Linked DNA regions of Homo sapiens. The protein of the gene in region 1 purifies or fractionates together with the protein of each later gene. This does not show direct contact. Each region holds a gene or a part of one and is shown on either strand. Other genes may lie near its edges.

Region 1 (3,495 bases):
CAGAAGCAGCAGTAAATTTATTATTTTCTGACACTGTAAATTAAACAAATATATACAGCTAAGCAATAATTTAATCATCCTAAATTTTAGGTAGATTATTTTCATATTAATTAGATTAAATCACAAGCGTTCTTTAACACTAAAAAAATACAGAGATGGATCTTTAAAAGTTTTATTATGGAAAATTCCAAACATACACAAAGTAGAGAGCACTGTATAATGCATCCCCATGTATTCATTACCCAGCTTCATCAATTATCAAATCAAAGCCACTGTCCTCCCACTTTCAATTCACCTTGTGTTATTCTGAAGCAAATCCTAGAGATCTTATCATTTCATCTATAAATATTTCCAGATTTATCTCAAAACAATAAGAACTCTTTATTAGGTATAGCCACAATATTATCACCTCCCCAGAAATAAGTACGCCCCTAACATTACCAAAGATAGGAATGAATTTTTTTTTAAATCAACATAATCATTCTTCTTACATAACTGGGTGATTTTTCTCTCTATGGCTCTATGAATCCTTTCATTAGAAAGAAAATTCTACTCACTCATAAAAATATCTAAAAGGCAAATACCCATGGGTACTAATTACTATAGGGATAAATTCAGTAAGACAAAACTATGAAAATAAGTCCCGAGAGTATGTGGCAAACCAAAAAACATGCAATCACAATCACAGGACAGTTTAAGACTGATAAACAAGTTTGTCCACGTATCAATATTAAGCATACTTCCTGATGTTAGTTACTCCCCCTAAAGTTTTATTAGATTATGGAAAAGGTATTTCAGAAACTAAACATAATATTTATATATCTTTAGAGTCAATAAAAGTTAACATCTAGCAAAAGCACATGTTTAAATGATCACGTTAAAATAACTCGGAGCTGCACAGGAGCAGCAAAATATCATCATAGTACATAGTATCATATCAGTACAGCAGCAGTTGTTATCTCAGTTACTTTGTAGACATTAACCAGTTTTATCATCTATTAAAGAATATATCTACTTTGTGTCAGAATTTGAGCTAGATGTTAGGGTTCATTCATGTGAAAGGATTCAAGAAAAAAATTATTCAACAAAATGAAGGTTCACAAATCAATGAAAAAAGATTCCAGATGCCTACTGTATTCTGTATGTGAGGGTCTGTCACAAGTAGAATTGCTAGGACAAATGAAAACATAATTCTGAAGAGCTATGGGCTATATTAAATAACTAACTGAAATCAGTAGTGGAAAAATAAGGCAGAAATACATTTTTAAAATAAAAATATATTAGCCTTTGCAAAAGAAATCCACGAAGAATGTTTTTTAGTTCATTCCTAGTTTTAATTTCACTTTTGACCTACAAATAAAACCTACATATGAACCCTGTGTAAATGACTAGTGAGAATTTAAATGATTTGCAGTATCAAATAATATATTAATATAAGGGGATGGGTTAACATCGAAACAGTCCCAGAGAACGGTTCCGTCAAATCCAGGGCCCTGCCTTAAAACTACAATAAATACGTTTATAGGCTAGCAAGTAATTACTTTCAGAAAGATTAATTTTAATAGTCTTCTATGAACTCTCACTTTAATTCAATATACCACACTAATCTTAAGGACATTTACAAAATTCTCCTTGCTTTTTGCACTTAGTACCTGAGAGGCCAACAGAGAAGCCGCTGTCTGAATAGTTTCTGATTGAGTTGTACTTGTCTCTGTATCAAGTTGTTCCTGTGAGACAAAGAGGATGGGGAAGGGGGAAAAGAGACTTAAAAAAGAATAAAAGAACATAACTGGGTTTGGTGGCTAATAAAGAAGACAAACTGGAAGACAGGAGGGATCAAGAGAAAGATGTGACTACATTACAAAAACATCTAGTCAGTAGATGTTGTAGGTTATTTCACCATTTCAGATATTAATAAATTTCTATTTGCCTACTTAAATCTTATAAGGCATGGGTCAAACTAGCTCATGACTTTCCAACCAGCTCCAACTTGGGACATTTTAAGCAAACAATAATTAAAAACACACATAGGCACATCATGAAATGTTGCCCAGACAATAACAGAGCATAAACCCAAGGACAGTTCTTAGCTTTGTGGGAGGAAAAAAAAAAAAAAAAACTTATTCAATACTACTAAATAAAATAACCTCACACCTTTAATTAAAAGTAGAAAATATGTCTAAAAAAGATTTCTCCCTCCTTATGGTCTCTTCACCCCTCTCTAGTAATCAGTGCACTGATTCTACTCATCAGAAAACACAGGGTAAAGTATGTCATGCCATCACTCTAAACTTTTTAAAAGCAGTACACAAAAGAAAATAATATCTACACAAATAAATGAAAATAAAAATATAGGCCAGACGTGGTGGCTCACACCTGTAATCCTAGCACTTTGGGAGGCCGAGGTGGGGAGATCATGACATCAGGAGTTCAAGACCAGCCTGGCCAACATGGTGAAACCCCATCTCTACTAAAAATACAAAATTAGCCAGGCATGGTGGCGGGTGCCTGTAATCCCCACTACTCGGGAGGCTGAGGCAGAAGAATTGCTTGAACCTAGGAGGCAGAGGTTGCAGTGAGCCGAGATTGTCCCACTGCACTCCAGCCTGGGCGACAGAGCAAGACTCCATCTCAAAAAAAACCAAAAAAAGGACAAAGAAGAAAAGAAAAATATAAAAACTTCAATTTCAATGAAACTATACCAAAAAAAAAAAAAACGAAATATTGTTTTCTCCTATGAAATTAAAAAAGGTAAATAAGATGTAAGAAGTAGGAATGGAAGACATGCAGCCTTCCTGGAGGACAACTTGGTGATGTATACCAAACTTTAAGATAAAGCATACTATTTTCCTCAATAATTCTTCTTCCATTAATTTATGCTAAGTAAATAAACATGAATGAATGGCAGATATGGTATTTAGCTGTAACCAATATTACAGCAGGAAAGCACAACTTTCTTTTTTAAATGGAAATAATTGCTATGGATAGGAAATTGGTTGGATAAAAATAATCATAGCCTTAAGACAGCATTCTATGAAGCCATTAATAATTTTGTAGATTACATAATGATACACATACTTTTTTCTTGGTTTACAAAGTGAATCAAAATTATAAAGCAAGGGCATTATGAGGGCACACACAAAACCTAAGAGAGTTTTGTTAAAATATCCATCATAGAAATCTGGATAATTTGGGAGAAGGGGGAGAATTTCCAATTTTTCCACAAGGAAAGAAAGTTAAAAGCCTTCAATAGATTTCAATTTCTAGGGAAAAAAAATGAGTCTTTTACATTTTGGGGAAAAAAAAATTTCTTCCACCCCATCTACACCTCATTCAAGCCCCATGTACCCCAGGTTCTAGCCAAAACCTTACGCCAAAAACTGCTTCTATAATCATAACAAATTCTCAACCCAAAGAGACAGATCATGATCTCAGCCCGGACTATCAAAAATCCTATGTATCCTTTGAGGACCACTTCAAATGCTACTTCTTTCT
Region 2 (3,878 bases), on another chromosome or scaffold:
GTTTTACTATGCTCTTTCACTTTACTGTCCCTTTCCCTGTTCTTATAATTAGACATACAGGATTTAACGTAAGAAATCTACTATTTCCTCCACCTAAGATATATACTTTCTAGCTGTGTATTAATTTTACCTAAGGATCCCATTATCATATTTGGCTGCACTGCAACAGTGGCTATGACAAAACTTTAGCAAGTACTGAAATGGTGAAGACTAAATGAAACTTACCTCCAGGAGCTAAGGAACCAGGGCCAGGTCCTGTGACAGCAGCTGGCATTTGCCCTGGTGCTGGAACTCCACCCTGCATAGAAGCTTGCATCAGAGGAGGTGCGCCATTGACATGCATTCCACCCTGACCAAGCAAAAAAAACAGAGTATGTATATGCCTCTGTGGATACTCAATATACTAAGTCTACGACCTTAAAAGTCCTCTTCAAATGAACAGCCCCAAATACACTACTAAACATCCTTTTTGTATGGCATGTCTTATGCAGCATTAGATTTGTCACACACTTTAAACTCCACAGAAGCAATATACGTCATGAGCCTGGTTATATGGAACACGGTTAAGATGGAACATATTCTCAATGTAGAGATTGACAAGTCTTATCTGTGTGGCAAGGCAGCACATAACACCTACTGTTAACTTCATGATTGGGGCTGCCAATAAGAGTAAAAAAAAAAAAAAAAAAAAGCCCTAAACCCAAGAAACATAAAAGGAGACTGGGACTCTTTTAAAAAAAACAACTGCTGGTAGTCCACATTTTTAAAATTAAATTTTTTTTTTAATTTAACCAATCTTTTCTCACTCCTGTCCTTAGATATAATTCTGGTTTTGGGGGAATGTGAAATATATTTTTTTAAATGCTACATTAAAACTCGTTGAGAAAAAGAGAATGTCATCTTTTCATCTGTGCATTCCCCAAAAAACTGAGTAGTCCCTTGAATTAGAAACAGCTCAATAAATAAAGAATAAAAGCCAAGTTATATAAAAAAAATCACATATACGTTTAAGGAACACAAAACTCTACAAAAGAAAAGGAAGAGCTGTATAGGAAAGTAGTTAAGAGAAAACTGGCTGTGAGGTCAGATAAAACCAGGTTCAGAAATAGATCTGCCACTTATAATTGTGTCAATTTTTGGACCAGCTAACCTCTCTGGGCCTTAGCTTTTTTTTTCTATCTCTGAAAATGTATTTATTTATTTAGAGCAGGGGTTGGCAAACTATGACCCATGGGCCAAATCGGGCTCACTGCCTGGTTTTATAAACAAACTTTTAACGGAACACAACCACACACACTTGTTCACTTATTGCCTATGGCTGATTTCATACTACCATGGCAGAGTAGCTGTGGCAGATCCTGTGACTTGCAAAGCCAAAAATATTTACTGTCTGATCATTTACAGAAAAATGTTTGCTGGTCCCTGCCCTGTACCTCTGCCAACCTGAGAGATGAAAAATGGTAGCTTATTGTAGTTTCTATTTACATTATCTTATAACATTACATATATAAATGATAATTTATTACATTATCTTATTTTGAAGTTGAATAAATTTTTATATATTTATATTTCTCCTTTTGTGAAATATTTATGTCTATTTCCCATTTTTCTACTGGGTTATTGGAAATTTTCTTACTAATTTATAGGAGGCCTTTTAAAATTTATTATGAAAAATTACAGATATACAAATCATATAGAAAATAAAATAGCCACCCAGCTTAGGAAATAAATAAGTAAATAAAATAAACCAATGGCCTGTACGGTCTTCCCCAATTGCATCCTGTGCTCTCTTCTCCTTTGATGACCACTAAGACGTCTTCTTAATGTTTCAAAATTTTATATGAATCATTACATACTCAATATATTATTTTGCAACTCATTCCACATATTTTGGGGATTTATGCAGAAACATATATCCTACATTTCGGGAATGCATCCATATTCACTTAGTTTCATGTCCGTATGTCACTGTTTTGGAGTTGTGTTGATATTATGTATCCTAGTTCATCTTAACTGCTGTATGGAATTATGTTTTTCAAAGTCATTCATGTTGATACGTGTAGTTTATTTAACTGTTGTACAGTATTTCACTGGATGAATGTACCACACATTTTCTCCATTCTTCCACTGACGTACATTTAGGACATTTCCAATTTTTCACTCTAAGGCAATAAACATTCTTGTGAATGACTATGGGCTCTTTATTAGTCTGTTTTCCATCACATGTGTGGTAAATACTTTTTCTCAATTTGTCATGTCTTTGATACTTATTTTTTTCTTTATATAGAAATTTTTTAGTTTTCAAATGTATCAATTTTTTATGGCTTTAAGGTTTTGTGTCATGCTTTGAAAGCAAGCTTTACTTTTTTCATCAGTAAGAATGGAGATAATAAGAGTGCCAACCTCATACAATTGCTTTGAGGATTAAATGAGATAATGCATATGGAATAACGAAGTGCCAACCACAGTGCCAGGCATGCACATACACACAAAGTTAGCTTATAAGAAAAGGGCATACGGGAAGGATCTCTTTGTTTTACAAACTTGGAATCGAATCTATATTCATTCAGATGTCATGTGCTCTGCAACCTGGAAATTGCTTTTATGCCTGGAAATTGAAATTATCATCTCTGGTTCCTGACCATTCTTCTTTCAATATATTCTCCTAAAAAGAAAATGACATTCTAAGACAGATACAAAAAAATGTTAAGGGATAAAGCCCTACCAAAGACTGGGCCTGAGGGGCCTGAGGATTCTGCTGGTTCATTGACACATTGGATCCTGAGCCAGGCCCAGCACCATGGACTGGCTGAGGGTTGCCTGCAATCAGCGTTGGGATATTTGTCTGGCGATGCAGAATTTTCTAAAAAGTGAAAAGACAAACCTATGAGCTGTCTGTTTAACAAAGCAATCAGGTAGTTCCTATCCCATTCAAGGTTTACCCGACCATTTCCATAAAAGAACCAGAAGCACTCACCAGGGCAATTTCCGGATCCACAATTCTCATCACTACCTGTGCTTGCAGCAAAGCATAAGCCAGTTGAGGGTTCTGAAGTAACATGTTCCGTGCCTCCTGGGGACTATTCTGGACACAGAGCTGAGAAGATAAGCAGATTCAGGTTTAATACTTATGACTTAGAAACTGATAGTGATTTAGAGCCATTCCCCTCTGAGAAATGTAATATTCAAGAGGCTCTTTATCATTAGTTTTTGCATGGCACAAAAAAACCTTGGTCATGGCAGGCAAGAGAAGAAAGAGGCATTTCAAATACTGTGATATTATCATTTAGGAAAAAAGCCAAATTTTAATATCTACATCTGACATCTATGGGCCACAAAACTCCAGCTGGATTGTTTGGATAGCTGTGTTTGTGTACAAAAATAGAAAGCTCTTTGTACAAAATGTAAAATATACTGTGTACATACAGAATATTGAAGGTGCAAGAAATGGTGGTCTACAGACAATTTCTATTTGAGCTCAGGGAACTAATTCAAGTAACTCCTTGAAAACCTGATGTGATTTGCTTTATTCATAACCTAATGCCTCCTCCCACCTTCATTTGTTTCATCAGCTCAAACATCTGCTCTGGTGGAAGGCTGGCAACTGCTTTGCTAATGGACTCAGGGGCATCCTCAGGACTGATGGTCTCTCCATAAGGTGACTCAATGACAGGGGCACCAGTGCCAAGGCCTAATCAAGAAGAAAGTACAAGAAAGTTAGGGAGGCAAAACAAAAAGCTAAATCATTTCAAATATCTACTTTTCAGGGCTGCTGTAAGAACCAGCTGATAATTTTAGATTCTCCAGAGCTGAGAAATAAATGATGTGAAAGCCTCTTGTTTCTGTGGAGGAAAGTGAGAGTGTATTTTCTGTTCTCA

What was found. Proteins that work in one complex are often made in the same cells at the same time.
Region 2: the proteins of PAPOLA (region 1) and CSTF2 fractionate together in Homo sapiens (co-fractionation; one large-scale study listed by BioGRID). This does not show direct contact.

Annotation. Positions count from the first base shown.
Region 1 is NC_000014.9:96,561,051-96,564,545, reverse strand, and holds part of PAPOLA (poly(A) polymerase alpha), read right to left. Parts: intron 1,728-3,495; coding exon 1,653-1,727; intron 1-1,652. UniProt on the Homo sapiens protein: Polymerase that creates the 3'-poly(A) tail of mRNA's. Also required for the endoribonucleolytic cleavage reaction at some polyadenylation sites.
Region 2 is NC_000023.11:100,823,105-100,826,982, reverse strand, and holds part of CSTF2 (cleavage stimulation factor subunit 2), read right to left. Parts: intron 3,692-3,878; coding exon 3,555-3,691; intron 3,098-3,554; coding exon 2,978-3,097; intron 2,864-2,977; coding exon 2,726-2,863; intron 350-2,725; coding exon 226-349; intron 1-225. UniProt on the Homo sapiens protein: One of the multiple factors required for polyadenylation and 3'-end cleavage of mammalian pre-mRNAs. This subunit is directly involved in the binding to pre-mRNAs.